2 linked regions of the Homo sapiens genome follow. The protein of the gene in region 1 purifies or fractionates together with the protein of each later gene. This does not show direct contact. Each region holds a gene or a part of one and is shown on either strand. Other genes may lie near its edges. The genes, in order: CPT1A and MTCH2.

Region 1 (8,577 bases):
TACATACTCACTGAAATGAAATGAATAGATGCTCACACAAAAACTTGTACAGAATGTTCAGAGCAGCATTATTCATAATAGCCAAAGAGTGGAAACAACACAAATGCCCATCAACTGATGAAGAGATAAACAAAGTGTGGTCAATCCATACAATGAGATATTATCCAGCCCTAGAAAGGAATGAATTCCAGGTATGTGTTACAACGTACTGAACCTTGAAAACATTATGCTGAGTGAAAAGAAGCAGGCAGGCGCGGTGCCTCACTTCAGTAATCCCAGCACTTTGGGAGGCCAAGGTGGGAGGATTGCTGGAGGCCAGGAGTTCCAAACCAGCTGGGCAACATAGTGAGATCTTATCTCTACAAGAAATTTTAAAAATTAGCCAGGTGTGGTGGCACATGGCTGTAGTCCCAGTTACTGAGGAGGCTGAGGTGGGAAGATCACCTGAGCCCAGGAGGTCATGGTTTCAATGAGTCATGACTGTGCCACTGCACTCCAGCCTGAGCGACAGAGCAAGACCCTGTCTCTAGAAAAGAAAGAAAAGAAAGCGAAAGAAAAGAAAAAAGAAGCCAGACATAGAAGACCACATATTGTATGATTCTATCTATATAAGATGTCCAAAATAGGCACATACATACACACAGAAAGATTAGTGGTCATCAGGAACCTGGGGGAGAAAGGAATGAGGGATTTCTTTTGGAGGTGATAAAAATAGTACAGAATTAGGCTGGGCTCTGTGACTCACGACTGTAATCCTAGCACTTTGGGAGGCCAAGGCGGGTAGATCACTTTAGGTCAGGAGTTCGAGACCAAGCTGGCCAACAAGGGGAAACCCCGCCTCTACCAAAAATACAAAAATTAGGTGGGTGTGGCGATGCACGCCTGTAATCCCAGCTACTCGGGAGGCTAAGCAGTGACTGTTGCACAAGCACCTCGTGAATATACTAAAAACCACTGAATTGTACACTTTTAAAGGGTGGATTTTAAGGTATGTGACTTATATCTCAACTAAAAAAATTAAGTTTTTTTAAAAGAGGAATCCCTGTGCTCAGGAAGCTTACATTCTAGTGAGGGAGGTAAAAACAACAACACAAGGTCGGGGTGACTGTCGGCTGGCGAGGCGGCGGGGCGGGTGGAAGGTGCCGCTAATACGTGGGGGTCACAATCCAGGCTGACCTGAGCCAGCGAACGAACAGACTTGATCAGGTTCCACCTGCTCTGGGTCAGAGCTCCAGAAGAGCCTGACACAGAAACATCAGAAATAAATCAAGAGCAAGACCGGGTGTGGTGGCTCATGTTAGTAATCCCAGCATGTTGGGAGGCTGAGGCAGGCAGATTGTTTGAAGCCAGGAGTTCGAGACCAGCCTGGGCAATGTGGCAAAACCCCGTCTCTACAAAAAATACAAAAATCAGCTGGGCGTGGTGGCGCACACCTGTGGTCCCAGCTACTCGGGAGGCTGAGGTGGGAAAATTACTTGAACCCAGGAGTTGGAGGTTGCAGTGAGCTGAGATTGCACCACTGCCCTCCAGCCTGGGTGGCAGAGCAAGACCCTGTCTCAAAAAATAAAAAATAAAAATAGAACAAGAACAAGAACAAACAGACTCAAGTTTGACTAGATCTGTCTTTAAGGGACTGCACTGGGCCCCCATGTGAGACTAGGTCAGTCCCCATCTGTGTATGGATCACATAAGCCCCCAGCCAGGGGTCCCTGGAGTCAGGCCATCCTGTCTGCTGGACGCTAACAACTAAACACCACTACTTCTACGTGCCCACCCTGGTCTAAGATAAAATCCCTTTATCCTTATCCAGAGAACTTTAAAAAACAAGCCTGATCTTGTAAATATCCAGTAGATTTCTCTACTTGATAAATGTACCCTGTGTGATCCAGCTGCCTATGGTCCCGACTCTTTTTCTTTTGCCAAACAACAGCTCTTAGGCATATAGGACTCGGGAAGTCCTTGGCCTGGGGTATAACAAGCCCGGGCTATTATGCTGTGCAGAGATTTATTAAAGCGTGCCTTCTTGCTACGTCCAGAGACACTGAAGGCAGCTTGATCTTCAATGCGCTCTGTAGCTAAAAGGCTCTCTCAGCTTTTGTCGACATCGCCAAAGAACCCTGGTGGTGGTGAAAAGCCCTTTTAATATTGGCTGCTTTTTATCAGGTATTAATGTCCTAGGGTCATACTGGTGTCTTAAAGCCTAGAGCACTATGTTTTTTTTTTTCCTTTTTATCCTTTTTCCTACATAGAAAACCTCCCTTGGCTGAAGGAGTGGCTGGAGGTTTTGCCAAGACTCCAACCAGAAGTAAGACAATTAAAAGAGGTAGAGGAAGATGAGACAGGAGCCCCTAACCTAGTCTTGGGAGAGGGTAGCAGGGCAGTGCCATTCCTAGGGGAAGTGAGGTCAGCTGAGACCTAAGGAAGACCTGACGGGGCCAGGAGCCAGGGGAAGCCAGGGGGAAAAGCCTTCCAGGCAGAGAGGAGAGTGAGTGCGAAGACTTTGCAAGAAAAAACTGGCACCAGAATTTGTTTATCTCTTGGGGGAAAAATAGACAGACACAATATTATAAAAAGAAACGTCAAGGCCAGGCGTGGTGGCTCATGCCATAATCCCAGCACTTTGAGAGGCCAAGGCGGGTGGATCACTTGAGGTCAGGTTTATATATATATAAAAATTATCCGGGCATGGTGGCATGTGCCTATAATCCCAGCTACTCGGGAGGCTGAGGCAGGAGAATCACTTGAACCGGGGAGGCAGAGGTGGCAGTGAGCTGAAATCGCACCACTGCACACCAGCCTGGGTGACAGAACAAGACGCCATCTCAAAAAAAAAAGTCAAAATTCAAAACATTCACAGAAGTTTAAAGAAAAAAGAAGGTCATACATTATGATGTCTTCACAAGTTTACTACTAATTTCTTTCTTTTTTTTTTGAGATGGAGTCTCACTCTTTCGTCCAGGCTGGAGTGCAGTGGCGTGATCTCGGCTCACTGCAAGCTCTGCCTCCCGGGTTCACGCCATTCTCCTGCCTCAGCCTCCTGAGTAGCTGGGACTACAGGTGCCAGCCACCACGCCCGGCTAATTTTTGTATTTTTAGTAGAGACGGGGTTTCACCGTGTTAGCCAGGATGGTCTCGTTCTCCTGACCTCGTGATCCGCCTGCCTCGGCCTCCCAAAGGGCTGGGATTACAGGCGTGAGCCACCGCGCCTGGCCACTACTAATTTCTAATTTCAGACACACAAACCCGGCTCCATGCCCTATCAAGAACAGCGAGGTGCTCAGCCTGCAGCTGGGCCCTGTCTCCCACACACGCCGTGACTTTCAGGTCATTTTATTCCACTTCATTTATTAGGCCAGCAGGAAAATTTAAAACACTGCAAAAAGATGGTCTTTATAGTCAATGTGAATCTCAAAGGGGCTTGTTGCTTTAAAAGAAAAAGATCTCAAGTCTCATCACAACAAGTGACCACAGTATTTTCTGTGTCAAGTCTACGGATGATGATCCTAGAATTTAGCAACTTTAAACAAGAACCTGACCGGTGAGTTAAGGAAACAAAACTTTCATTTAATTTCTCATGCCAAACACGGAACAGGTCAAACAGTTCAGAGTAACGAATTATTAAAAAAAAAAAAAAAAAAAAAAGGCTGAGTGTGGTGGCTCCCATCTGTAATCCCAGCACTTTGGGAGGCCCAGGCAGGCAGATCCCCTGTGCCCAGGAGTTCAAGACCAGCCTGGGCAACATGGGGAAACCTTGTTTCTACAAAAAATACAAAAATTAGCTGGGCATGGTGGCACACACCTGTAGTCCCAGCTACTTGGGAGGCTGGGGTGGGAGAATGTCTTGAGCCTGGGCGGTCAAGGCTACAGTGAGCTATGATTGTGCCACTGCACTCCAGTCTGGGTGACAGAGTAAGACCCTGTCTCAAAAAAAAAAAAAAAAACAATGGTAGAGGCCAATCCACAGGTGCAGGCAGGGGGACAGGGGTTTGTGGTTTTCAAATAACCTGGTAATTTTAAGAATTAAAATGATGTCTTAGGTAAAAGACACGCTGCATGTTTATAAACCCAGATTTTCACATGCTTGCTTCTATTTGGCCTAAAAAATGCGGTAGGTAGGAAACACTAGGAAATCCAGCACATAAGGGATAGTTTATTCCAGGAAAAACCGAGCTTCACTTCTGCTGTGAAGCTGCGGCCTGAGAGTCAACTGCCATTTCACTCTTTTGTTCCCTAAGGAGATGGCAGGAGATGCACTGCTGTTCAAGGGACCTAAGTTATGGGAAAGGAAGACAGGGATGCCTTTAATCTAGTGATTTAACTTCATGTGCATTACTAGTACAAGTGAAAAATTCATATTCTATAATCACGCAAATATTACAAAACTAAATTGACTGTGGGGTTTGGATTATCTTTTTTGTTTTTTCTTTTTGAGACAGAGTCTCGCTCTGTCGCCCAGGCCGGAGTGCAGTGGCACGATCTCGGCTCACTGCAACCTCTGTCTCCCGGGTTCAATCGATTTCTTCTGCCTCAGCCTCCCAAGTAGCTGGGGCTACAGGCATGCACCACCATGCCCGGCTAATTTTTGTATTTTTAGTAGAGACGGGGTTTCACCATGTTGGCCAGGCTGGTCTTGAACTCCTGACCTCAGGTGATCTGCCCGCCTCGGCCTCCCAAAGTGCTGGGATTACAGGTGTGCGCCACTGCGCCTGGCCAGGTTTGGATTTTCAAAAGCAACTTCCACATTCAAGTGAAAAGTGTGAAAACTCACCTCCCAAAGGTGGGCCACGATCGGCGCATCTGCCCAGGAGTGTTCAGCGTTGAGGCCCATCTTCCCGTTTTTGAAGACAACAAACGTGAACGACTTGTCAAACCACCTACGTGAAACACACATGTGTGGAACTTAAGTGTTTAAAGAGGCAACAATGAGGAGACATTGCACCTCTCTGCTTCATCCTGGATGGACTAATTCACTTTGCACCTGTCCCTCTAACAGTGAGCAGACACTCAGTCTCTGTGGAGTGAGGGTGAAAGTACAAACAGGACACTGAATCACTCATTTCTTCCCTGTCCCAGACACAAAGATGAGCGCTTATATCCTGGCAGCCTGAAGTCAGGACCTGTTGTTATCGCAAGGCAACTGGGGAGAGGTGGGAGGCTCTTCCCGTGGGCACATGACCCCTTCATCAGCCAATCCTTGGCTCCACCCTGCAGGGGGCGGGGCTGGCCAACACTTTACAGATAAGAAAAAGAGGACTTGAGATAGCCACATGCCAACACCCTGGCCTAACCCTGTGCCTAGCCCTGTTTGCCACTCTCCCCTGCCTGAGTCCAGGGACCTGGCAGCCCTGCATCTCATGAGCATCTCCAAACAAAGGTGGTCATGCACAGAGGAGGGAAGAATCTCAGATTTGCAGCTCAGGCTGTGTATGTGTGATAGTTTTGGCAGAGGGAAGAAAACTGAAGGTTGGCCAGGCGCAGTGGCTCACATCTGTAATCTCAGCACTTTGAGAGGCTGAGGTGGGTGGATCACTTGAGATCAGGAGTTCATAACCAGCCTGGCCAACATGGTGAAATCCTGTCTCTACTAAAAATACAAAAATTAGCCAGGCGTGGTGGCACACGCCTGTAATCCCAGCTACTTGGGAGGCTGAAGGAGGAGAATCGCTTGAACCTGGGAGGTGGAGGTTGCAGTGAGCCGAGATCAAGCCACTGCACTCCAGCCTGGGTGACAGAGCAAGACTCCATTTCAAAAAATAAAATAAAATAAAACTGAAGGTTATATTTTTATGCCACCTTCTTTCTTAGCATTATAGATACTTAGGGGTGAGTGTCAGGCACACAGGGTATTTCTTCCAAGCTCATGGGCAAACTCCTGTCTCTCAGAAGGTAAGGACGGTACCTGTCGTAACATCGGCCGTGTAGTAGAGATTTGGCGTAGCTGTCCATTGACGTATCCGGGTCTTCACTTCTGTATCCTTCTTCAGTTTCATCTAACGTCACAAAGAACGCTGCTTTCTCCACAGCATCAAGAGACTGCTTATTTTTCCCACGTCCAAAATAGGCCTGACGACACCTGGCCCAGGGAACTCTGCAGTGAAGATGAAATACGATTAAAGGCAGCCCGACCTGCAGCGATGGAGCGTGATGTTTGAAATGACACAATCAAACCTTTGCAGTTTTTCAGAATTTCTCGAAGGAAAACTCCATGTTGATGATGTTCCCCATCTGAGACTGTTTGCTGGAAGGACTCTCACCTGCTCCTGGTCTCCAGACCACAGCATGGGGAGCGGTGGGTATTTTTTGTTCAATAAATGCTGACTAAATGAACGGCCAGATTGCAGGCTGGCCCCGTGGGCAAAGCCGCCAGGAAGCAGCAGACCCAGATCACCCTGTTCCACGCTCCCTGACACACCCTCCCTCCCCTCTACAGGAACCACCCTAGGTAAGTTCCGGCAGCCCAGGTCACAGTAAGTGCGTAAGAGTGCGTCCCTCATGCCAGGCTCTGCTCCAAACCTTTTCTGTGTACCAACTTACTGATCTTCTCAATGCTACTGTACCTATTTTTCAGATGAGAAAACTGAAGCACGGAAAGATTAGGTCACAGCTATTTTGAGGCAGAGTCGGAACCCAGGCCATCAGCCCCCAGGTGCATTCCACAGATGCCCATGTGACCCCTCCACAAGGAGGTCTCCGTGCCCGTCTTATTTGAATACACAGAACTGGTGTGATGCCCACTTCCTTCTTGGAAGACCCACCAGCTGGGCTTCCTCGAGTGCTCCCGGGTCCCTCTCACTCCAGCTCCTCCAGGACCCTCTGCCACTGCCCACCCTTCCAGATCGGGGCCATCTGGCTCTCTCCCCACCTTCTTCTCTCTAGGAGTGCTTGGCTATGGCGGCCCGCAGGGCGAATAAGCCTAGAAACACGCTAGGCCTCAGTGCACCCCGCTCGGGGAACAAAGGTGACGCTGACGGTGGCCGGCACGTACGGAGCCCTTCCTGTGAATGACTCCCATGGGTAAGATGCTGATCTGGCCCTATCCAGAGGGGGCATCGGGACCGAGGCGCCTACAGACCCACAGGGAGCCCAGGCCCCGCGGCGCCGGCTCAGGCTCCCCACGTCTCCTCCGCTGGGGATTCCAGGCTCTGAGAGGAGGGCATCGGATGAGCGCATCTTCACCCGAGATGCATCTCCTGCCGCCGCTCTTTCCAGCCTTGTCAACACCACAGCAGATACCGAACAACGCCGGCTTGCCCGCACACATCCTCCTCCATCCCGCTCCTGCTCCCAGGCCTGGCCCTCTTTCAGGCCCTCACTACTTGGGCCACCGAAAAGCATCCCTGTGTCCAGGGCCCCTCCTCCCTGCCCAACCAGAAGAATCTCCCACATTAACCTACTCATGCACCCCCGGCCCCACCCCACCCTACACCACCTGAAGCGGCACCCAGTTGCAGAATCAAGCTCAAATATGATTGGGTGCCTGGGACCCTCCCCAGCTTGGCACCGTGGCCCAGCTGCCCAGCCCACTCCACGGCTCCTGCCTGCTCTGCTACCCCGGGGCATGCGGCTCCACCCCCTGGACACCCACTGTCCTCCTGGTCTGCTCCCACCCTCTGCAAGACACAGCCCACCTGCGGCCCCTCCACGCAGCACAGAACCTCTCCTGATCTTTGCAGAAGGGGCCCCAACACCTGCCCCTCCCGCCTTACTCCCAGCGATAGCGTAGCAGTTGTCACACTGCTGGAACGCAGCAGCTCTCAGCTGGGGACAACAGTGTCCCCCTGATGCTGGGCAATGTCTGCGACACTTCTGGTTGTCACACAGGTTGCTGCTGGCAGTCGGTGGGCAGAGGCCAGGGCTGCTGCTCAGCATCCAACGCTACACAGGGCAGTGCCCCCCACAAAGAGGTACCCGGCCCTGAGTGTGCACAGCTCTGAGGTGAGAAACCCTCCTATACAATACACACCACACCTGCGAGAAAACCAAGCTCGGGCTGATTCGCTTTCTTTTTTATGTTTTGAGACACAGTCTCACTCTGTCACCCAGGCTGGAGTGCAGTGCCTTGATCATGGCTTACTGCAACCTCAACTTCCTGGGCTCAAGCAATCCTCCTGCCTTAGCCTCCTGAATAGCTTGGACTACAGGCACGCACCACCAAGCCTGGCTAATTTTTTGGTAGAGATGGGGTCTCACTCTGTTGCCCAGGCACATCTCAAACCCCTAGGCTCAAGTGACCCTCCTGCCTTGGTCTCCTAAAGCAATGGAATTATAGGCGTGAGCCACTGCGCCCGGCCTGATTCTTTTTCACTGAGGCAAGGAAATGTAACCCTAACACAGGGGCCTTGGTTTCCATTTGTTCTGTTTCCTAAATTAATAAATATGCCCACAGCCCCGTAAGAAAGGCTAATCCTGGCCAGGCATATGGTTCATGCCTGTAATCCCAGAACTTTGGGAGGCCAAGGTGGGTGGATCACTTGAGGTCAGGAGTTTGAGACCAGCCTGGCCAACATGGTGAAACCCTGTCTCTACTAGGCATGGTGGCGCACTCCCAGCTACTGGAGAGGTTGAGGCAGGAGAACT
Region 2 (16,056 bases), about 21 Mb from region 1:
GGTTTTTTTGAAAAGATAACATTAATCAAACGAATAAATGAATGAAAAGCCACTCGCTAGCGGATTCATTATTTGCTATACTTATTTAGAGTTTGTCAGTCACGAGACTGTTACGGCTCTGATGCTGAGTATCTTTTGAATCCTATGTTGATGATGCCCAAAAGGCAAGTGCAGAGATGAAGCATAATGAAGAATCCTTTTCAATTTCTTTTCAGTCCTCTGACCTTGCCTCTGCCGTCACGGTCACACTCCCCCACTGACACTCCCATTCTTCTGTTTCCGGACACTTGCGGCCTGGAAGCGCATGTGCAAGAGAAACCGTCATTCCTGGTGAAGGGCGAGCCCCCGGCAGAACGCATGCGCCTCTGTCCCTTAAGCCCCGCCCCGACCTCAGCGCCCCCTCGCGAGCGCCTGCCGTTTCTCGGGGCGGGACGGGGGGGCGGGGACTGGGCGGAGAGGCGCGTGCTGCTGCGTGCGTGCGCGCGCGCCGCGGGCGGGCCAGTGAAACCGGCGGCCCTGGCACGTGACCTAGGACCGGCTCACCGGGTCGCTTGGTGGCTCCGTCTGTCTGTCCGTCCGCCCGCGGGTGCCATCATGGCGGACGCGGCCAGTCAGGTGCTCCTGGGCTCCGGTCTCACCATCCTGTCCCAGCCGCTCATGTACGTGAAAGTGCTCATCCAGGTATGAGGCGTCGCCGCTCCCTACCCCGCCCGGCGCCCCGTTCGGTCGCTGCTGCTCAGGGCGCCTGAGGATCGGCTCAGCCTTGCGGGCCTTTCATTCTCCCGAGATGCTGCTGCTCCTCCGCTGCCCTTTACCTCCCCGCAGGGACAGCTTCCTCAGTCCCGCGGCCCCGCTTGGGGGCCTCGCCGAGCCCTCGCCTCGCCGCCCAGCGTTGAGGCCCTCTCCTCCCTTAGCCAACCGCCACCCGGCCCTGCCCTGCCCGGCGGATCCTCTGAACTTTGGTTCTTCGTCACTGAGGTGGATCCTGGCCGGTCGCCACCAAAGGCTTCCGAACCCTCCCTCTCGCCCCTCCGAAATTCACATTCACCACTACTCCCCCCAAAATCTCAGACGCAAAACACGAAATACTCAGTTGAAGACAAATGTGAAGTTAGGTGGGAACCAACATTTTATTTTTTATTCCTTTTTTTTTTCTTTTTATGCTACTGTTACTACTGCTTTTCTGTTCCGAGGTTTTCGCACCAGATACTGAGAGAAACACAAGGAGCTCATTCAGAAGTGTTAATGAAGGGGTTGCTCTGTCAGATTTCGGAAGGATGCATTGAGCGCTTTCCAGCAGCGGCCCATGTGGCTCCTGACAATGAAAATCACATTTGTCAGAGCTGGAAATTAGTGAAGCTGAGTTTTAGCGAGTTTAAACATGGGAGTTAGTTTCTAATCTACTGTCAAATAATTATTACATGGTATTTTATATTCACATGCAGGTAGGCCAAGTAAGTGATAGACTTAGTGTTTCCAGTTCCTTTGCTATATCCCTGTAATGGGCAGGTCATTCTTTTTTTTATGCTTTTACTGAGAGTTGACATAATTACCTCATGCACTGTGCCTAGGAATGGAACAGTTTTTAGAACCCCTGTCTCGCCGTCTACTTTTCTGTAAAAAATAGGCAAGACACTAGAGAGGGCCCCATTTCTTATTCTTGAGTTGTTGGGAATCCAAATTATTTCTTGCTGAGTAGACCTGTGTGAATTCAGATTCCATATGTTAAAGGCTATTGCAAATAAATTCTTTGTACTTAGAACAAAGACTGATTAGAATGTACTGTAACATCCAAAACAGAATTGGCACATTTGGGGCTAGATAGCATCGGAGGTGACAGCATGTTGCAGTATATAGTAAGAACCCTTGGGGCCGGGCGCGTTCGCTCACGCCTTCCCAGCACTTTGGGAGGCCGAGGTGAGCGGATCACGAGGTCGATGTTTGAGACCAGTCTGACCAACATGGTGAAACCCCGTCTCTACTAAAAATACAAAATATAGCCAGGTGTGGTGGTGCGTGCACGTAATCCCAGCTAGTCGGGAGGCTGAGGCAGGAGAATCGCTTGAACCCGGGAGGTGAAGGTTGCAGTGAGCCGAGATCGCGCCATTGTACTCCAGCCTGGGCAACAGAGCAAAACTCAGCCTCAAAAAAACAAAACAAAACAAAAAAGAACCCACTACTCAATACTTCTCTGGGAGACGGGGTTTTCTAATGATGTTCAGAGCTCTTGCCCCAAAAACTTTGAATATTCTTAATTCTGATTTCACAACATCTATGTGTTGCCAAGTAGCCCAGGAGTTTTGGTGAAATTCCCAAATGCTCAGTTGTAAAAATAGTTACTTGGGCCGGGCACGGTGGCTCACGCCTGTAAATCCCAACACTTTGGGAGCCTGAAACAGGCGGTTCACCTGAGGTCAGGAGTTAAAGACTAGCCTGGCCAACATGGCAAAACCCCCTCTCTACTAAAAATACAAAAATTAGCTGGGTGTGGTGGTGGGTGCCTGTAATCCCAGCTACTCAGGAGGCTGAGGTACGAGAATGGCTTAAACCTGGGAGATGGAGGTTGCAGTGACCTAGATCGTGCCACTGCACTCCAGCCTGGGCGACAAGAGCGAAACTCTGTCTCCAAAAAATAAATAAGTAACTAAATAAAAATAAAAATGGTTACTTGGTAGCACTTTCAGGGAGCTCAGACAGGAGTTATTTGTTTATTTATTTGTTGTTGTTTTTGAGATGGAGTTTTGCTCTTGTCACCCAGACTGGCATGCAATGGCACAATCTCGGCTCACTGCAACCTCCGCCTCCCAGGTTCAAGCGACTGTCCTGCCTTAGCCTCTTGAGTAGCTGGGATTACAGGTGTCCGCCACCACACCTGGCTAATTTTTGTGTTTTTAGTAGAGACAGGGTTTCACCATGTTGGCCAGGCTGGTCTTGAACTCCTGACCTCAGGTGATCCGCCCACCTTGGCCTCCCAAAGTGCTGGGATTACATGCATGAGCCACCACGCCAGCCCAGGAGTTACTTAATAGGACAGATTAAGAGTCACAACAATAATCAAAACTATGTCCTACAGCATTCATTCTGTCAAGTATCTGTAGTGTTAAAAATCCTGGGTATATTGTACAAAGACCATGGTAATCATTAACTATATAAAATGGACTTCATTAGCTGTTAATGACAGCCTGTGTTTTTTTGTTTGTTCGTTTGTTTGTTTGTTTTTGAGATGGAGTCTCGCTGTTGTCGGCCTCGGCTGGAGTGCAGTGACACAATCTCGGCTCACTGCAACCTCTGCCTCCCGGGTTCAAGTGATTCTCCTGCCTCAGCCTCCCAAGTAGCTGAGATTACAGGCGCCCGCCCCTACGCCCGGCTAATTTTTTAGTTCTAGTAGAGACAGGGTTTCACCATGTTGGCCAGACTGGTCTCGAACTCCTGACCTCAGGTGATCCATCCCCCTCGGTCTCCCAAAGTACTGGGATTACAAGGCATGAGCCACTGCGCCCGACCGACAGCCTGTTCTTCTAACATGAAGTTAGCTTGTAATTCTTTCCTAAGTGAATTATCCAGCTATATCTGCATTTGCCTTTTGAGTGTTTTGTCTGGGTTGCCAAATATGCAGCTGATGCTGGCGTAATGGATGTCTTCTAGTTTTGTTCAAATACAAAATGTGCCTTAGATTTTATTTAGAAGGTATTTTTGAGCCCCCTTAGTAAACTGTAGCTTTCCTAACGCAAAAGTTCCCTTCTTTCAGTTTGATATTAGCCTATTTCAGCTACATGGTTTACGTCATAGAATTTGAACCAAAATGAAACTTGGAGTTTATTGAACTCAGTATTACCAACAGAAGAAAAACCTACAAGAATGATGCTTCATCATTGCCTTGGAAAACCTATGCTGCATTTTTACTTGTGTTTAAAAATAACCCAAATTGTGTTCTTTATTCAAGACCTTGCAAGCAAGACATTTCTGGAAATATTGCTTTAATATTGATATATTCCATTGTTTTTAAAGGTGGGATATGAGCCTCTTCCTCCAACAATAGGACGAAATATTTTTGGGCGGCAAGTGTGTCAGCTTCCTGGTCTCTTTAGTTATGGTAAGTGCCTTTGATTTATTTGGGTTTGCATGACGTTGAGGACTGTGATAGGCAGGAGTTGTTATTGAAAGAAAATATATAGAAAGCTTGTTTCTTTGAAATTGTAGTATATCCATTTCTCTTGACCAGAACTTGACAACATCTCTGACTTGTGTTCTTAGCTCAGCACATTGCCAGTATCGATGGGAGGCGCGGGTTGTTCACAGGCTTAACTCCAAGACTGTGTTCGGGAGTCCTTGGAACTGTGGTCCATGGTAAAGTTTTACAGGTAAGAGGAAAATTAAATCAATCTTCCCATAGATGTTGCTTACCTGTTATGCATAGTTTGTTCTAAATATCAAGAGCAATTTAAAAGATACATTTATAACCCTGTCCTTTCTTCCTCTTGAAAAACACTTTCTTTTTTTTTTTTTTTTTTTTTGAGATGGAGTCTCACTCTGTCGCCCAGGCTGGAGTGTAGTGGCGCGATCTGGGCTCACTGCAAACTCCGCCTGCCGGGTTCACGTCATTCTCCTGCCTCAGCCTGAGTAGCTAGGACTACAGGCTCCCGCCACTGCGCCCGGCTAATTTTTTGTATTTTTAGTAGAGACAGGGTTTCACCGTGTTCTCAATATCCTGACCTCGTGATCCGCCCGCCTCGGCCTCCCAAAGTGCTGGGATTACAAGCATGAGCCACCGCGCCCGGCGGGACTCAGTGAAATTGTTGCTGTTACTTCCATGAAATTTACATATGGAAAGGCAGTTGTCATCTAGCCAAAGAGGTTTGTGTATAGACTTAGAGAAAAAGAGAAAGTGCTGCTTGAGACTAAGTTACTTTATGTAACTGTAAAGTAAGACAAACTTGAGGTAACCAGGTACCCTGAATATGTTCCAAATGTAGTCCAGTGAAATATTACAGGGTTGGTACTACACTTAGCATCCAAAGCTGCTTGTACAGTCAAGAAGAAGGATCTATGCAGGGCTGAGAAAATTATTAACCTTTACAAGAAATAATTTTGTAAACTGAACAAGAATTAAAATGAAATTCAGGAAATGTAGAAGACAGGTTAGATAATTATATCGATGGAGTAAATAACAAAGTATAGAAACAAGTGAAAATTTAGAGACCTGAAGCTATTAGAATTAATTCTAGCCAAGGACCTGGAATTTGGCCAAAATACATTACTTTGCTTTATCTTCACATTTGTTCTCTTGCCCGTGATTTTTTTAAACACAATTCTTTTTACAAGAGAAAATGTTGTCTATTTTTGAAATCTGATATGGCTAGAAAATAATAAAACTGACATTAAAAAATAAGAAAACAATAAAACTGGTGGTTACACAAGAAGGAGCTCTCAATTGATAATTTTATTTTCACCTAGCTCACATTCTATTTCCAAAATACGCCACAAAAAATTCCTCTTGCAAGAATTTTTCTCTGGGCTCTGGCAGTATTCATGATCTCTTCTCTAGAAGAGAAAAAAAAAACCTCTTGCTTGTTTTAGAAACCATCAGATACAAAGGAGAAAGTGAGGCGATTTCAGCTCTTCAGTCTTAATATCAATTCTCTGTCCTTTTATGCAGGGAAGAAAAGAGTCTTGCCCTAATTTGGTATTGGTCATGCGTTTTCCATGAGAAAAGTGGGAACCCTGGGCTATGTTTTTACTGACTTATTTTCTGTTAAAACTGAAAGTTCTTGGCCAGGCGCAGTGGCTCATGCCTGTAATCCCAGCACTTTGGGAGGCTGAGGCGGGTGGATCAGCCGAGGTCAGCAGTTTGAGACCAGCCTGGCCAACATGGTGAAACACTGTCTCTACTAAAAATACAGATGTTAGCCAGGCGTGGTGGTGGGCGCATGTAATCCCAGCTACTCAGGAGGCTGAGGCAGGAGAATCGCTTGAATCTGGGAGGTAGAGGTTGTAGTGAGCTGAGATTGAACCATTGCACTCCAGCAGTGAGCCGAGATTGCACCATTGCACTCCAGCTGGGTGACAAGAGTGAAACTCCATCTAAAAAAAAAAAAAAACAGAGTTCTTGAATTTTCTTTTTTGTTGTTGTTCTTATTTTGTAATTATTTCTTTAAATTTATTATTATTTTTTTAGAGACAAAGTCTCACTATGTTGCCCAGTCTGGTCTTGAATTCCTGGGCTCAAGCAGTCCTCCCTCTTCGGCCTTCCAAAGTGTTGGGATTACAGGCGTGAGTCACTGCGCATGTTCCCTTTTCGTTTTTTGGGTTTTTTTGTTGTTTTTTTTTGAGACAGAGTTTCACTCTTGTTGCCCAGGCTGGAGTGCAATGGCATGGTCTCGGCTCACTGCAGCTTCCACCTACCGGGTTCAAGCAATTCTCCTGCCCCAGCTTCCCACGTAGCTGGGATTACAGGCACCTACCACCACGCCCAGCTAATTTTTGTATTTTTAGTAGAGAGGGGGTTTCGCCATGTCAGCCAGGCTGTTCTCAAACTCCTGACGTCAGGTGATCCGCCTGCCTCAGCCACGCAAAGTGCTGGGATTACAGGCGTGAGGCACCATGCCCGGCCCCTTTTCTTTTTTTCTGAGATGGAGTCTTGCTCTGTTGCCCAGGCTGGAGTGCAGTGATGTGATCTCAGCTCACTGCAGTCTTTACCCCCCGGGTTCAAGCAATTCTCCTGTCTCAGCTTCCCAAGTAGCTGGGATTACAGGCGCCCGCCACCAAGCCCAGCTAATTTTTGTACTTTTAGTAGAGATGGAGTTTCACCACGTAGGCCAGGCTGGTCTCAAATTCCTAACCTCAGGTGATCCACCTGCCTTGGCCTCCCAAAGTGCTGAGATTATAGGCGTGAGCTACCGCACCCAGCCTTCCCTTTTCTTTTTTTTTTTCTTGAGACGGACTCTTGCTCTGTCACCTGGGCTGCAGTGCAGTGGCGTGATCTTGGCTCACTGCAACCTCTGCCTCCTGGGTTCAAGTGATTCTCCTGCCCCAGCCTCCCTAAGAGCTGGGATTAAAAGCGTGCGCCCCAATGCTCCGCTAATTTTTGTATTTTTAGTAGAGATGGGGTTTCACCATGTTGGCCAGGCTAGACTTGAACTCCTGACCTCAGGTGATCTGCCCACCTCGGCCTCCTAAAGTGCTGGGATTACAGGCATGAGCAACCACACCTGTCCCCTTTTCTTTTTTCAAAGAAGAGTTTTCATGACCATTTGCTTTTCTTCCAACTGACCAATATGTTAAACTTAGCAACAAGTTTATCTTGGAGATCCATATTTCCAGTTGATTAATGAGTAGAAGTTAACTGAAGATTTGCAGCTTAAAAAAAAAAACAAAAACTTTAAAAAAAACTTCAGCTAATTTACTTTCTGTCAGTAGAGTTTTCATTTTATGTCTTCTTTCACATGACACTGTAATAACCCTAATCATCCTTTTTCTTTTTTTCTATAGCATTACCAGGAGAGTGACAAGGGTGAGGTATGTTGGAGCTGATTTCTAAGCATGAGGGCCTTTCCCTTGCAAGTTGTTACTGCTTTTGGGGCCTCTTTTGGAGAAAAGCCAAGTAGTCAGTCTCCTATTCATCTCAGTGAGTGTTGTCCTATGGGGTGGCCACCAGTTTGGACAGTTCTGTTTGAAACCATCAGGATGGCTGGGCATGGTGGCTCATGCCTGTAATCCTAGCAGTTTCGGAGGCCAAGGTGGGAGGATCACTTGCATCTAAGAGTTTGAGACCAGCCTGGGCAACATAGACCCCTTCTCTACAGAAAATCAAAGATTAGCGGGGCCTGGTGGCACATACCTCTGTATCTCAGCTACATGGGAGGTTGAGGTGAGAGGATCACTTGAGTCCAGGACGTCAAGACTGCAGTGATCCATGATCACATCACTGCACTCCGCGTGAGTGACAGAGCGAGACCCTATCTCAAAAGAAATAAAAACCGTCAAGATCGGCCGCCCATGGTGGCTCATGCCTGTAATCCCAGCACTTTGGGAGGCCGAGGCAGGTGGAGATCACGAGGTCAGGAAATCGAGACCATCCTGGCTAACACGGTGAAACCCCGTCTCTACTAAAAATACAAAAATTAGCAGGGCGTGGTGGCGAGCACCTGTAATCCTAGCTACTTGGGAGGCTGAGGCAGGAGAAGCACTTGTACCCAGGCGGTGGAGCTTGCAGTGAGCCGAGATTGTGCCACTGCACTCCAGCCTGGGCGACAGAGCGAGACTCTGTCTCAAAAAAAAAAAAAAAAAAAAATCAAGATCTCTATTTTCTTTGATTTTGATTTCCAGGAGTTAGGACCTGGAAATGTACAGAAAGAAGTCTCATCTTCCTTTGACCACGTTATCAAGGAGGTAAGAGATGAATTACATCCTGTGCTGTTTGCCCAGATCAAACTGTGGTGTTGCAACTATGGAATCAGAATCATCAGGCCTGTGTGTTCAGTGTCTGTTCCCAAATGAAATTAAACCTTCAAATTAATTTGGGCTTTACTACATGTATAACATTAAAAAGAGAGAGGATCAGTGCTTGCTGTTCAGAATAGATGCATTTCAAGAAAACTCATTTTGCCCACACATTCCGTCTTTAGAATACTGAAAGTCTTCTAATAGTGTTGAAAACCTCAGGAATAAAAGTGTTAAAATAGGCCAGGTGTGGTGGCTCACGCCTGTAATCCCAGCACTTTGGGAGGCCAAGGCAGGAAGATCACTTGACCCCAGGAGTTAGAGACCAGCCTATGCAACATAGTGAGACTTCCTCTCTACAAAAAAAATAGAAAAATTAGCTAGGTGTGTGGTGGCACATATCTGTAGTCCCAGGTACTCGAGAGGCTGCGGTGAGAAGATGACTTAAGCCCAGGAAGTTGAGGCTGCAGTGAGCTATGATTGTGCCACCATACTCCAGCCTGTGTGATAGAGCAAGACCTTGTCTTTAGAAAAAAGTATTAAAATAGCGACCAGGCCCTTTGTATGTTGGATAGTATCTATGCAGAAAGGCTCTTTTGACATTTTTCTGACTCTGAAAAGTTCCTCATCACCCATTTCCCACCCCCATATGCTGCCATAGGTGTTTCTGTGCCTGGCTTTCAGAACTATTCTCTTATTACTTAAGTCTTCACATTGTCTTAATTGTCATTAATGAAGTCACAATTATCCAGGAAATGCAGCCATCCAAAATACATATTCCAAAGGCTGGGCGCAGTGGCTCATGCCTGTAATCCCAGCACTTTGAGAGGCCGAGGCGGGCGGATCACCTGAGGTTGGGAGTTGGAGACCAGCCTGACCAACATGGAGAAACCCCGTCTCTACTAAAAATACAAAAATTAGCCAGGCATGGTGGCGCATGTCTGTAATCCCAGCTACTTGGGGGGCTGAGGCAGGAGAATGGCTTGAACCCGGGAGGCAGAGGTTGTAATGAGCCAAGATTGCACCATTGCACTCTAGCCTGGGCCACAGGAGTGAGACTCCATCTCAAGAAAAAAAAAAAAAAAAAAAAAAAATATATATATATATATATATATTCCAAAACAAACATTACTAAAGGTCTGGAAACCAGATAAATTAGCTCTATTTTCTGTAAATTTTCATGAAATTAGTTTGCTTAAAAGCAGGGATACGGCCGGGCGTGGTGGCTTACACCTGTAATCCCAACACCTTGGGAGGCCGAGGCGGGCAGATCACGAAGTCAGGAGATTGAGACCACCCTGGCTAACACGGTGAAACCCCGTCTCTACGAAAAATACAAAAAAATTAGCTGGGCATGGTGGCAGGCGCCTGTAGTCCCAGCTACTCGGGAGGCTGAGGCAAGAGCATGGCGTGAACCTGGGAGGTGGAGCTTGCAGTGAGCCAAGACTGCGCCACTGCACTCCAGCCTGGGAGACAGCGAGACTCCCTCTCAAAAAAAAAAAAAAAGCAGGGATACATGTATTACTATGCAATTAGTATTTTCCTTAGTTTGCCCATCCAGTCCCATAGGATCTTATGCCCTTGGAGAAGGGGTGAGGGCTGTCTTAAAACTCAGTGACTAGGCCGGGTGTGGTGGCTCACACCTATAATCCCAGCACTTTGGGAGGCTGAGGCGGGCAGATCACGAGGTCAGGCATTCAAAACCAGCTTGGCCAACATGGCGAAATCCCATCTCTACTAAAAATACAAAAAAAATTAACTGGGCATGGTGGTGTGTGCCTGTAATCCCAGCTACTCAGGAGGCTGAGGCGGGAGAATCACTTGAACCTGGGAGGTGGAGGTTGCAGCAAGCTGAGATCGCACCACTGCACTCCAGCCCGGGCAACAGAGCAAGACTCTGTCTCAAAAAAAAAGAAAAGAAAAAACTCAGTGACCATAAAGATACTGTTTAAATGCAAAAGCCGGCCAGGCACGGTGGCTCATGCCTGTAATCCCAGCAGTTTGGGAGGCCGAGGCGGGCGGATCATGAGGTCAGGAGATCGAGACCATCCTGGCTAACACGGTGAAACCGTCTCTACTAAAAAATACAAAGAAAAAAAATTAGCCGGGCATGATGGCGGGTGCCTGTAGTCCCAGCTACTTGGGAGGCTGAGGCAGGAGAATGGCGTGAACCCGGGAGGCGGAGCTTGCAGTGAACCGAGTTCGCGCCACTGCACTCCAGCGTGGGTGACAGAGCAAGACTGTCCTAAAAAAAAAAAAAAAATGCAAAAGCCAATGGTAGACCTGCTTACATTTGCAATCCCAGAACCTAAATGCAAAGATTATAATTTAATTTTCTTTATTACTTCCTTACAGAGCCCTAGAGTAGAAAGATAAACTAGGAAAAACACAGCAGCTCTAAGATACTGCACAGTTACTGGGTTGTAGTCACAAAACAAAATTGTTCTCTTCTCCCAAAAATGTGAGTAGAGACTAAATGGAGCCTGTCATTTATCTAGAATGATGTCAGACTCTCCAAAATCACTTACCAATAAGAGAGCAACTTAATAATCTCAATAAAGGCCTCATATTTTTTATTTCAGCTTAATGACTTTGTTGGTGACCTTTCCTGTTTCTTTATTTTTTTCTCTTACCTGTAAAATTGAGAAAACAACAGAAGCCTGCTTTGCAGAGAAATTTTGAGAAGTAACTATAATAGAACATTGAGATCCATGAGTGAAAAGTATGATAAAATGACAATGAATGAGATCTTTCACATCCCATTCAAACTCTTCTTGACTCCAGCCAGGGCAGGAGGGCTGTGTCATTCACTTTCTTATCCTATACCACGATATCCACCCACATTCCTTCTCACAGGCATTTGAGTGTCATTTGTTTAGATTTCAGAAGTGTGTGTTGATTGTTTCTAGACAACTCGAGAGATGATCGCTCGTTCTGCTGCTACCCTCATCACACATCCCTTCCATGGTATGTTTGCAGTTGACAACTGACCTTTCTTTTATAACCTGATCTCTCCTGACCACTTAGATAGGTTGACGTGGGAGTTGACTAAAATGCCTTGCCTGCATGTTTTTGTTTGCTTGCTTGTTTTGGCTTTTATCCAATTTATCCAGATAGCAAAATGTCTTTAGGTGGAAAATCTTTTTTTTTCCCAGGGCTATCAAAATCTATCTTAACATAGTTTTTTTTTGTTTGTTTGTTTTTTGTTTTTGAGACGGAGTTTCACTCTTGTTGCCCAGGCTGGAGTGCAATGGCACAATCTTGGCTCACTGCAACCTCAGCCTTCCGGGTTCAAGCAGTACTCCTGTCTCAGCCTCCTAAGGAGCTGGGATTACAGGTGCATGCCACCACGCCTGGATAATTTTTGTATTTTTAGTAGAGATGGGGCTTCATCATATTGGTCAGGCTAGTCTTGAACTCCTGACCTCAGGTGATCCGCCCACCTCGGCCTCTCAAAGTGCTGGGATTACAGGTGTGAGCCACCGCACCTGGCCTTAACATAGTTGTAAACATCTTTTCTCTATATTCCACAGTGATCACTCTGAGATCTATGGTACAGTTCATTGGCAGAGAATCCAAGTACTGGTAAGTATTTTTGTTTTCACATACTCAAGGAGATCTTTTGAAGCCAAAGTACTAGAATAATACTACTTTGTATTTTTATGATACCCTTACAATTTGTAGAACAAATTCGTATCTGATGTCATTTGATCTGCACAAAAAACAATAAAATGGGAGAAAATATACCCAGGCAGGTTTAGTAGCCTACGTAGGATTTCAGAGTAAGTTGCAGAGCCCCTGACTCCATATGACTATACCCCTAGGTAGTTAATATTTTCACTTCTATCTCCAAATTTAGCTATCTTTGCAGAGTGAGAGAGTGCTAGAAAAGTGTGAGGGAAGGAGGTCGTGGATTTGACCTTGTCCAATGTGATAATTGAAATTATTTTGTTTATAGCTCCAAAAGAATCTTAATATATTTTACCTTTTCTTCTTGTGTACGTAGTGGACTTTGTGATTCCATAATAACCATCTATCGGGAAGAGGGCATTCTAGGATTTTTCGCGTGAGTAAATGTTGATTAGTGTGTAATTTTTGCATGAGTGGGAAACGTTTTCTGAAAGTAAGAATAGTGAGTCTTTGTTTAATCCTTGGGGAAAACGTACTCCCTGGGCTTACCTCACGTTACATTCTATTTAGGCCCCTTATTTTTTTTTCTTTTTTCTCTGCAGAAAGGCATATTTAGGCCCCATATGACTAGAATTATCTTGTAAAGATCCCAAACCTTTACTTCTAGATACTTAAAACATTTGAGGCCGGGCGTGGTGGCTCACGCCTGTAATCCCAGCACTTTGAGAGGCCAAGGCGGTTGGATCACCTGAGGTCAGGAGTTCAAGACCAGCCTGGCCAACATGGTAAAACCCCACCTCTAGGTGTGGTGGTGTGTGCCTGTAATCCCAGCTACTCGGGAGGCTGAGGCAGGAGAATTGCATGAACCCGGGAGGTGGAAGTTGCAGTGAGCTGAGATTGCACCACTGTACTCCAGCCCGGGTGACAGAGTGAGACTCCGTCTCAAAAAAATAATAATAATTAATAAATAAATAAGGAATTTCTTTTTTTAACAAAGGACTTAATTCCAAGTTTCTACCCTTGTAGTAAACTCCCAATTCTATATAGATAATAAAATGAGAAAAATTAAATGTTGAAAAATGGGGAAATCATCTTAACTTGTATTTTCCTTACCGTAAAAGAGTAAGTTTTTGCAAGGCTTGAATTTACTTTGGAAGAACTTAGACTACTACCCTCATTCTTCTATGAGGAAAAATTTTGCATCATTACCGAAATGGTGTTTTTTGTTTTTTTTTTTTTAATTTTCAGAGTATCTCCCCATACGGATTTTGAATATCATAAATACCCTGTGAGATAGGCAGGACAGCTATAATTAGTATCACTTTAGAGATTAAAAAACATTGATGCTCTGAGAGTTTCATCTGCTGCCTGTCACATCGCTGCTGAGTGCTGGAGCTGGCATTTGAAGCTGGTCTTCAATCCGTGGGGAAATGCTCTTCCCACTATTCCATGCTGCCTCACCTAGGTCACCCAGACCCTAGAAATGTGGTTTTTGATGCCTCTCATCTGTATCTGTACTTGGGACCATTCTTGCTTTGTAATTTTTCTCGTCTTTTGCTCTGCCAAATATGAATATCAGATAGCTTAGCAAAATCATTTTTTTAAGCTAGTCAAAGCAAAACAATATTTAAGTCTCTTCTGCAAAGCACCTCGCAAATCTTTTGCCTCCCTGCTTACAGTTATGAATAGTAAGGTGAGCCACTGAGGGTATAGCCGACCTGCATTTTAAACATAGGAACAAAAGTCACTGGAGATCAGCTTCAAGTACAGCTGTGTTAACGAGAATGAACTAGGTATGCGGGCTGGATTCTGGTGTTTGATTCCTTTTTTACTTCCCTAGAATGTTTTGTGACCTCTAATTATTTGACAAACATTTGTACTGAAGAGCCTGTCATGTTACTGATCACATTTTTTGGTTCTTATTTTTATTGTTTCTTCATGTAGGGGTCTTGTTCCTCGCCTTCTAGGTGACATCCTTTCTTTGTGGCTGTGTAACTCACTGGCCTACCTCGTCAATACCTATGCACTGGACAGTGGGGTAGGTTGTGACCTTCGTGAGATGTGCTCACCTTGGCTTTAATCTGGCAGCTAGATTAGCTTTTAAAGTAAGATGGGCCGGGCGAGGTGGCTCACACCTGTAATCCCAGCACTTTGGGAGGCCAATGTGGGCGGATCACCTGAGATCAAGAGTTCGAGACCAGCCTGGCCAACATGGTGAAACCTCGTCTCTACTAAAAATACAGAAAAAATTAGCTGGGCGTGGTGGTGCGTGCCTATAGTCCCAGCTACTTGGGAGGCTGAGGCAGGGGAATTGCTTGAACCCAGGAGGCGGAGGTTGCAGTGAGCCAAGATCGCGCCACTGCATTCCAGCCTGGGTGACAGAAGGAGACTCCATTTCAAAAAATAAATAATAAATAAATAAACAAGATGACAGTTTGCTACATGCCAGACTGAACAATTATATAGCTAAAAATTATCAGTCAAATTTTCAAATGCTAATGAAATGAGCATACTGTTCACTGTAGAACGATACTGTTTACTGTAGAACGATACACGTTAAAAGTCCGTAAGATGTGACAGAGTATACCCAAGAGACTTAGCCCTGTGTTACTTCAGGGCTTTAAAGAGATCACTTCTTTACTGATACTTAACTTGAGAGAACCTGGGAAAGCAGGACATCTTTATGGTGTATCGGGGGCTTTTCATCTAATCTGGACTTAAGAGGGTGCCTGTATTGGGCTTTCTAGAAACCTCAGCCTTTTGAGAATCAGTCTTATCTAGAAGTTGTCTTTCTTATCTCAGCAGTTGTGGGGCCTCTTGTATGTCGGCAGCTCCATAGCATGATGATAAATTGAACACATCACAGGGTATATGACTAAATCCATGTTGTAAACCTCTTGAGTACAGAGAGGGATTTTCTTCAACGCATCTGGTAGAAAGCTAGCTGTGTAAAACAAAGGTAGTGAATTGTCCCTTAGATATACTATAAATGTGGTTTTCCAGGGACTGTATTTCTAGGATGTGTGAAAAGGTTATCAATCTCATTTTCTTTAGTATTTGAAATCCTTTTACATTCGTCCCTAAAGCATTTTAGTATAATATGAATTTGTCTGTTAATATTGAATCAGGTTGATCATTTTGACCACTGCCTTATTATTCTAATAATCAGTGTTTTATGGTTTTGTCCTCAAAATTAGTTTTAGACAGGTGTGGTGGCTCATGCTGTAATCCCAACACTTTGGGAGGCTGAAGTGGGAGGGTCACTTGAGCCCAGGAGGTCAAGGTTGTGAGATCACAGCTCACTGCACCTCCAGCCTGGGCAACAAGAGAGATGAGATCCTGTCTCAAAAAAAAAAAAAAAATTAATTTTCAAGCTGTCAAACTGATAATTTAGAGATAGACTATATTGACATGGAGAGCAAGGCACAGTAGCTCCAGCCTATGATTCCAGCGACTCAGGAGGCTTAGGTGGGAGGTTTGCCTGAAGCCAGGAGTTTGAAACCAGCCTAGGCAACATAGCAAGACACCGTCTCTTAGCTGGGCATAGTGGCTTATGCCTATAATCTCAGCACTTTGAGAGGTCAAGGTGGGAGGATCTCTTGAGCCCAGGAGTTTGAGACCAGCCTGGGCAAACATAGGGAGACCCTTATCTCAAAAAAAAAAAGACACCATTTCTTAAAAAATATTTTGAAATTAGCTGGGCGTGGTGATGTGTGCTTCAGGAGGTCACTGCACTTCAGCCTGGGTGACAGAGTGAGGCACTGTCTGAAAGAAAAAAAGAAAAGAAAAGAAAAGGAAAAAAGAATATATTGATGTGTTGTAGTGTTGTAGGTAATTAATTTAAGGCTCTTTTCCTATTTTAGGTTTCTACCATGAATGAAATGAAGAGTTATTCTCAAGCTGTCACAGGAGTGAGTTTTTTAAAATCCTTTTAACCTTCTAGGAATAGTTGTGTTTTGTTTTGTTTTCCTTTTAAATCTGGCTTGT

What was found.
Region 2: the proteins of CPT1A (region 1) and MTCH2 purify together in Homo sapiens (affinity purification with mass spectrometry; 2 studies listed by BioGRID and IntAct, with this or other methods). This does not show direct contact.

What each region holds. Positions count from the first base shown.
Region 1 is NC_000011.10:68,775,872-68,784,448, forward strand, and holds part of CPT1A (carnitine O-palmitoyltransferase 1, liver isoform), read right to left. Parts: intron 6,089-8,577; coding exon 5,900-6,088; intron 4,875-5,899; coding exon 4,769-4,874; intron 1-4,768. UniProt on the Homo sapiens protein: Catalyzes the transfer of the acyl group of long-chain fatty acid-CoA conjugates onto carnitine, an essential step for the mitochondrial uptake of long-chain fatty acids and their subsequent beta-oxidation in the mitochondrion.
Region 2 is NC_000011.10:47,627,004-47,643,059, reverse strand, and holds the start of MTCH2 (mitochondrial carrier homolog 2), read left to right. Parts: upstream 1-500; 5' UTR 501-594; coding exon 595-681; intron 682-4,008; coding exon 4,009-4,093; intron 4,094-4,254; coding exon 4,255-4,361; intron 4,362-7,488; coding exon 7,489-7,515; intron 7,516-8,325; coding exon 8,326-8,388; intron 8,389-11,348; coding exon 11,349-11,406; intron 11,407-11,972; coding exon 11,973-12,024; intron 12,025-12,445; coding exon 12,446-12,505; intron 12,506-14,013; coding exon 14,014-14,107; intron 14,108-15,932; coding exon 15,933-15,980; intron 15,981-16,056. UniProt on the Homo sapiens protein: Protein insertase that mediates insertion of transmembrane proteins into the mitochondrial outer membrane. Catalyzes insertion of proteins with alpha-helical transmembrane regions, such as signal-anchored, tail-anchored and multi-pass membrane proteins.